Homo sapiens: one gene and its partner. The protein of the gene in region 1 interacts with the protein of each later gene in a biochemical or structural test. Each region holds a gene or a part of one and is shown on either strand. Other genes may lie near its edges.

Region 1 (3,829 bases):
TTTATAATATATTTTGAAGTCAGATAATGTGATGTCTGCAGCTTTGTTCTTTTTGCCCAGGTTTGGTTTGGTTGTTTGGGCTTTTTTCTTTTTCCTTTTTTGGTCCCATATGAATCACATTGGTATTTTGATAGGGATTTCATTGAATCTGTAGATTGCTTTGGCAATATGGTCATTTTAGTGATATTAATTCTTTCCACAAGCATAGGATGTTTTTTGATTTATTTTCTTTCATTGGTGTTTTGTAGTTTTCTTTGTAGAGATCTTTCACCTCCTTAGTTAAATGTATTCCTAGGTTTTTGTTTGTTTTCGGTAGCTATTGTAAATGGGATTGCCTTCTTAATTTCTTTCTTGGCTAGATCCTTATTGATGTATAGAAATGCTACTGATTTAAAGGTTTTCTAAACCTACAGATATATAATCAGCAAAGAGACAATTTGACTTTCTCTTGTCCAGTTTGGATGCCTTTCATTTCTTTCTCTTGTCTGATTGTTCTGGCTAGGATTTCCAGTACTGTGGTGAATAGGAGTGGTGAAAATGGGCATCCCTGCCTCATTCCAGCTTTTAGAAGAAAGATCTCACCTCTCCTCATTCAGTATGATGTTAGCTCTGGGTTTGTTGTGTATAGACTTTATTATTTTGAGATATATTCCTTCTATGCCTAATTTGTTGAGAGTTTTTTTAATCATGAAGGGATGTTGAATTTTATCAAATGTTTTTGTTGTTGTTGCAATACTCTTTTTTTTTTTTTTTTTTTTTTTTTTTTGAGACAGAGTCTTGTTCTGTTGCCCAGGCTGTAGTGCAGTGGCGCGATCTTGGCTCACTGCAACCTCCACTCACTGGGTTCAAGCAATTCTCCTGCCTCAGCATCCCTAGTAGCTGGGATTACAGGCCTGTGCTACCACACCCAGCTAATTTTTCTATTTTTAGTAGAGACAGGGTTTTGCTATGTTGGCCAGGCTGGTCTCGAACTCCTGACCTCAAGTGATTTGCCTGCCTTGGCCTACCAAAGTGCTGGGATTACAGGCGTGAGGCACTGAGCCCGGCTGTTGCGATACTCTTAATGGGTTTTATATTTCCTTTTTGTGGGGGACAGTTTATTTTGCATTCTTACTACTTTTGATATTCTGACATCATCTTATAAGTGGGATTTATATTCACTATGTAATTGAAGTTTTTTCCAATGAAGCACCGTATATAGTTTATCTGGGAAATTGGCTGAAGAATAAAATGTGTGATGTTATTCAGTGTACAGTTTCTAGGTCATCAGAAGATACCACTACCTTCCCACTACTGGAAAAGAAAAAAGAAAAGTTTTCCACAGTGCCTGAACTGTTTTGTATGCTTATCTTTTAAAATTGCCAGAAATCTCACTTACTGGAGATTCAGCAGTCCCTTTCTGAAAATACACATACTTTAGTGCAAATAAAGCCAGTGGATCTCTTTCTTCATAAGTCCTTAAACCTAGTCGAGGTCATCTGTTTGGCAGAGATAGGAGTAAGATAATGTGAAATAGGAACCAACGAGAGAGAACTTGCTTAGGAGTTGAAAGGGGTATGGAAAGATGTTAGAGGTAAAATTTGTCGAATCTAGTGTTTTGACTAGGGCAGGCCAGAATATTCAGTATCAGTATCAATATCAGAAGCTTTTGTAGCCTTTGTTTAGAAACCTAGTCATTTATAACATTTTGTGGGTGAATGACATCATTACCAAACAAACTTTCAGATGAAACTTTGGAACTCAAGCTGTAAATTGTGGATAGCTCATGTGCAGTACTACAAATCAAAACAAATACTATAAAGTGTTTGGTAGTCCATTTCCTGAATGAAAGTTTGTCCAAAGTATATCAACTTTCTGCAGTCTTACATGCAGTAGTTATTAGTTTTGTGTATCGCTTTAGTGGATATTTTTAAAAGTATCTTCAAATGCAATGAATTTTAGGAAACAAAACAATTCTTTAAAGCATCATTAGATAGCTTCTTCTTTCTGAAACCCAGAGGAATTTATGTATAGGATGACTCTTTTTTTCAAGTAGTTAAGTTAAGGTGCAAAAGTATAAGGTAAAGTATATTATCTTACCATTGAAAATTTTGGCAGTGGCAGAAGAGCGAACCCTTACAAATACCTTCATTGGGCAATACACTAAGCACTTGCTGTAATGCTTTTTAAAACATCTATACTCTGGCTGTGGTATTTTAAGTGAAAATCTCTCAGTGAGATACTCTTTCGTATTTTAGTACTGATATCCTTAATATTGCTCTGAGAGCTACCTTATACTGACTTCAGTTTCCTAGTGATTTAAACTACTAATTTCCAACTTATTTTTTTTTATAGTGAAAACTAAATATTCCTTTTGTAGATGTAACCATTTCTGGAAGCCCTAAGTATTTTTGAATGAGTATAATTCATGCACACTTTAAGAGATTTCAAGCATGACAAGCACAGTGAATAACATATATCCATGTGATTACCACTGAGGTTTAAGAAATGTTAACATATGATATCTGCTTCAGATATTTATCTTTTTAAAAATAGAACATTACAGCTGGGCATGGTGGCTCACACTTGTAATCCCAGCACTTTGGGAGGCTGAGGCTGGTGGATCACCTGAGGTCGGGAGTTCGAGACCAGCCTGGCTGACATGGAGAAACCCCGTCTCTACTAAAAATACAAAATTAGCCGGGCATGGTGGCACATGCCTGTAATCCCAGCTACTCGAGAGGCTGAGGCAGGAGAATCGCTTGAACCTGGGAGGCAGAGGTTGCGGTGAGCGAGATCACAACTCCAGCCTGGGCCACAAGAGTGAAACTCAGTCTCAAAAATAATAATAATAAATAAAAAATAGAACATTACAGATCCAATTGACTCTTCTTTGTATTGCTCCTTTTTTTTTTTTTTTTTAGTTTTATTTAAAAATTTTTTTTAGAGGCTGAGTCTCACTTGGTGGCCTGGGCTGGAGTGCAGTGGCGCAGTCATAGCTCACTGCAGCTTCACACTCCTGAGCTCGAGCAATCTTCCTGCTTCAGCTTCCTGAGTAGCTTGGACTAGCAGAGGTGTGCCACCACATCTGGCTAATTAAAAAAAAGTTTTTAGAGATAGGATCTCTCTGTGTTGCTCAGGTTAGTCTCAACACCTGGCCTCAAGTGATCCTCCCACCTCAGCCTCCTGAGTAGCTGTGGTTGTAGGTGGCAGCCACCACACCTGGCAGTATCCCTTCTTGAGACCACTGACCTTTCCCAGAAGTAATCACTGTCCTGAAGTTGGTATAGATTCTTTCTGTCTACATCTATGCATGTTTATGCTCAAAAACAATATATTGCTTTGTGTGTCTTTAAAATGTATATAATGGTTTTATGCTATATCTTTCTTTCTGCAACCTGCATTTTTCACTTAAAATAATTTTGAAATTTAGTCCTGTGGATATATAGTGAGCCAATTAATTCTGCTTAGCTACTCTGTAGTCTGTTTTGTGAATATACCACAATCATCTACTTTCTTATTAGAGGACAATTTAGGCAGTTCCAATTTTATTTTTCCCGGAATGTACATTATTTTAGTCGAGTGCCATTGCCACATTAGCGATATTTTGGTTAGTGAGGGACTGCAGATAGGAAGGTGATCCCAAAAGATTATAATGCCATATATTTACTCTACCTTTCTATATTTACATATGTTTAGTTACACAATTACCCATTATGTTACAGTTGCTTACAGCATTTGGTGCTGTAACATGCTGTACAGGTTTGTAGCCTAGGAGCAATAGGCTATACCATATAGGTTTGTGTAAGTACGCTCTATGATATTCATATAACGATGAAATCACCTAGTG
Region 2 (3,829 bases), on another chromosome or scaffold:
AATTATTTTACATATAGCTATTACATTGTTTCTTGTAAGAAACATAAGAATATTACTATTTGTATGTAACAGCATTGATATCAAACTGACTATATTTCCAAATGGTTACTTTAAGAATCTACTGAGCTCTCTTCTGTAGTAACGAAGTCCCACCCTTTTTTTGTCTAAAAAGAGCTACTGGAAACCTGAAGTGATGATTGCTGCTCAGGGACCACTGAAGGAGACCATTGGTGACTTTTGGCAGATGATCTTCCAAAGAAAAGTCAAAGTTATTGTTATGCTGACAGAACTGAAACATGGAGACCAGGTTTGTACTTTTGAGGATTTTCTTTTAAGCCTTTCTGTCATAAAACGTCATTCTCTAGTCTTGGATTGCTTGCTTCATCGCCATACCCACGTCTTTTTTTATCCCTCCATCACATAATTCTGTCTGCTCAGTCTTACCCCTTTCACCCTGGTGTTGGCCTCCATCAGCTGTGTCTGGATTCTGACAGTCTCTCCTGTTTGTCCCCTCCAGTCTTGCATGCTGCTCACAGATTAGCCAGGATGCAGCAATGTCAGCGTCACAGCAAATAACAGCTACATTTTCACGCTGTTTTCCTCATTTTCTCAAGATAAAAGCCAAGATCTTTTTGTGATATCCAGCACCCTGGACAATCACCCCCTCATGTGTCTTTCATCTTCCTCCCATTTTTATGTTTTCCATCCTCTCCACTCTGGACAAGCAGGTTTCATGCCCAAGCCTAAACACGCCATTTGCATTGTCATCACTGAGTCTAAACTTATTGATATTCCATGTAACTAAATGTGTGCTGTCTTCCAGTTTTGACCCTATTCTTTTAACAAGACCAAACTCCTGAAAAATGTATCTATATCATCCTTTCTTTATTCCCATATAATATTTATTGCCATAAAAGTCTATAGTTGAAGGTGAATCTAAGCTATAATTTGATTTTTTTACTTAATGCTTGTGACAGATATTTTATCCTTTTCTTAATGTCTTCAGTTATTATTAAAATTTCCCTGGTGGTAGATCTCACTCAGCTTTAGCACCAACCACATTATCTGACATATGTTCAAGCCTATTCAGTGAATAACCTTATAAGTATGCAAAAGATTTATGCTTTTTTATGCCCCTCTCTCTCCCCTAAATCTCACTCTTTCTCACCCTCACCTGGTCCCCTTCCCCTGTACATGGAAAGTTGCTTTTTATGTTTTTTGTTTTAAAGGAATATAAGTCCAGATTTCTAGCATGGAATTCCCACAATCCTTTCCTTCATATAAATTGTGAAAGCTGGGAAACAGGATGGAAGTACCGGCAGGACTCCCTGTCTTTGTCAGAAATTGTGGGGTTGTAGTTGGTAGACAACAGTTTGTAGTAAGAAGAAACACTTTTGTGGTTCATCTACTCTTCAATCTGGCCCTTTCCTTAGCTATGTAGACAAAATATATAAAGCTGCTTATGGTGTTGGTCAACAAGATGACAGAGACAAAGCTCCAAAAGATGCAGCCTCCTTCCTCAAGAACCACTGAAGGGACAGTGGGACCTGAGTTATTGAAAGGGTCATGAATAACATTGACTCATGCCAGCCATAAATATTGAAGAGGTCATGATAAGCATGTGGAAAAGAGGAGCAAACCTCAAAGACCTACACTAAGGAAAACAGCTGTTCCGGGGGTGTCCCAGTCACCTCGATTGTGCTCAGCTTCCCTTTTCTTACACAAGGAAACACCACATATTTATTAAATGGGTCGCCAGCACTTAAATAGATTCTGGATTTTTATAAGTAGGTTTCAATTTTAGAACACAATAATTTTCATTTAATAGAAAAGAGGCACAGACAGAGAAAGAAAGGGAGAAAGAGGGAGACTGATCCTTTGCATATTTCAAATAGGAAACAAATTGTTGAATTGTCTTCTTTTATCTAGGAAATCTGTGCTCAGTACTGGGGAGAAGGAAAGCAAACATATGGAGATATTGAAGTTGACCTGAAAGACACAGACAAATCTTCAACTTATACCCTTCGTGTCTTTGAACTGAGACATTCCAAGGTATGGAAACAATTTGGGGAGTATATTTCTTTGATATAATGGATCTGGTAGCAAAATGAATATAAATTACTCTATGCAGGCAAGGCCATCATATAAATAATGTTTCAGAATAACATTTTAAAATTATTTAAATAGAAGTAACTGTGAAGAAAATATGACTATCAAATTAGAAAATAAGCTGAACTTCACTCCAGTTAATGCTCTCTTCAATTCTGATTTTAGAGGAAAGACTCTCGAACTGTGTACCAGTACCAATATACAAACTGGAGTGTGGAGCAGCTTCCTGCAGAACCCAAGGAATTAATCTCTATGATTCAGGTCGTCAAACAAAAACTTCCCCAGAAGAATTCCTCTGAAGGGAACAAGCATCACAAGAGTACACCTCTACTCATTCACTGCAGGTGCGTGGGATTTGGTAGAATGTGCTCTCAAAATCATAATGCTTGACTTCTCGGTTCACATGTTGTCTTATCTAGTTATCCTCATATATGAAACACATAACCACAGTAAAAACTTCTTATGGAGTCGGTCACTCTCTTGGTTGTTTCCACAACACAACTATTGTAGAAATATAATAGAAGTGATTATATTATAGTGCAATAATTTTAAGTTGTGTTTTTTAATACTTGGTGTCATGTCATCTTTGATTCCTTGGTAGCTAACATTGAGCCAGGAATGTCATTTGTGTGAATGAATTAATGAATGGAAGGGTGTGTGAACAGATAGGTAGATGGGTATCACCTTACACATATACCCATATACATTGATCTACTCTATTAGGTGTCACAAAGACACCTAATATGTTTAATGAACACAAAGTTTATTAAACATATTTTAAGTTAAATATTAACTGAAATCACAAAGCTTAGCAATTTTGATTTGAAACTCATTATTTAATTTTCTAAACTGAACCAAAGGCAAAGATTGTGGTAATATCAATAATACTACTAGATTTTATTAGTTTCTTCATCTGTGATAGGTGCTTACATATTCACCTTAAATAAGCAATATAATTGAAAGAAAGATATATAATATAAAAGTTTACATGAAAAAGAATATTGAAGTAAATGAGAAACGAAAAATAGTAAAGTAAAATGAGAAATGTTTATCTAGTGAAAAACTTTTGGAATTTTTGAAAAAGTCTAATTGTTATTATTGGAATTGCATATACTAGAATCAAGCCTTAAGAAATATATGAATTTTCAGCATTTATGTGGAAAGAAAGCTGAGGAAGGGAAGTTTACACTGTAAAACTATATATGTTTCTTAGAATATGATTTATGTACAATAACTAAAGTGTCCTGCTGATAACATATTGTTTAAATTGAATCTTTATGATAATGCTTTATACTTCTCATTGTTTGGTAAACTATTTGATTGCCCTCTTTTTAGTGAATAATTCTACTAGGTATTACTTTTCTACTGATGCAGAAGTGAAAACATTTGTGAAACGTGGTAGAGAGGCAGAAGAGTGAAGAAGAGCATGTGTTCTAGTAATTTACAAAATATTAGGTCTAATATTTCTGATTACATCAGCTTTCTCTTCTCCAAATCTTGGTTTCCTTATCTATCATACTGGCATTCTGATATTGGTTTCAACAACTTCAGATGTAAATAAAAATGCATTAAAATCCATAAAATACTAAATAAAAGAAAATATATTTGTAAAGTCGAAGACAAATAAGTTTTCAATTCCAGGATTATCACACTCTTAAATTGAAAAATTTGCCTAAAAATGCATTTAGCGTAAATAATTTGGTTCTTGAAAGAGGTTGGA

Evidence for each region.
Region 2: of the proteins of NSF (region 1) and PTPRC, one has a biochemical effect on the other in vitro, tested with the Homo sapiens proteins (one large-scale study listed by IntAct).

What each region holds. Positions count from the first base shown.
Region 1 is NC_000017.11:46,597,051-46,600,879, forward strand, and holds part of NSF (vesicle-fusing ATPase), read left to right. Parts: intron 1-3,829.
Region 2 is NC_000001.11:198,750,320-198,754,148, forward strand, and holds part of PTPRC (receptor-type tyrosine-protein phosphatase C isoform 1 precursor), read left to right. Parts: intron 1-172; coding exon 173-307; intron 308-1,929; coding exon 1,930-2,052; intron 2,053-2,274; coding exon 2,275-2,453; intron 2,454-3,829. UniProt on the Homo sapiens protein: Protein tyrosine-protein phosphatase required for T-cell activation through the antigen receptor. Acts as a positive regulator of T-cell coactivation upon binding to DPP4.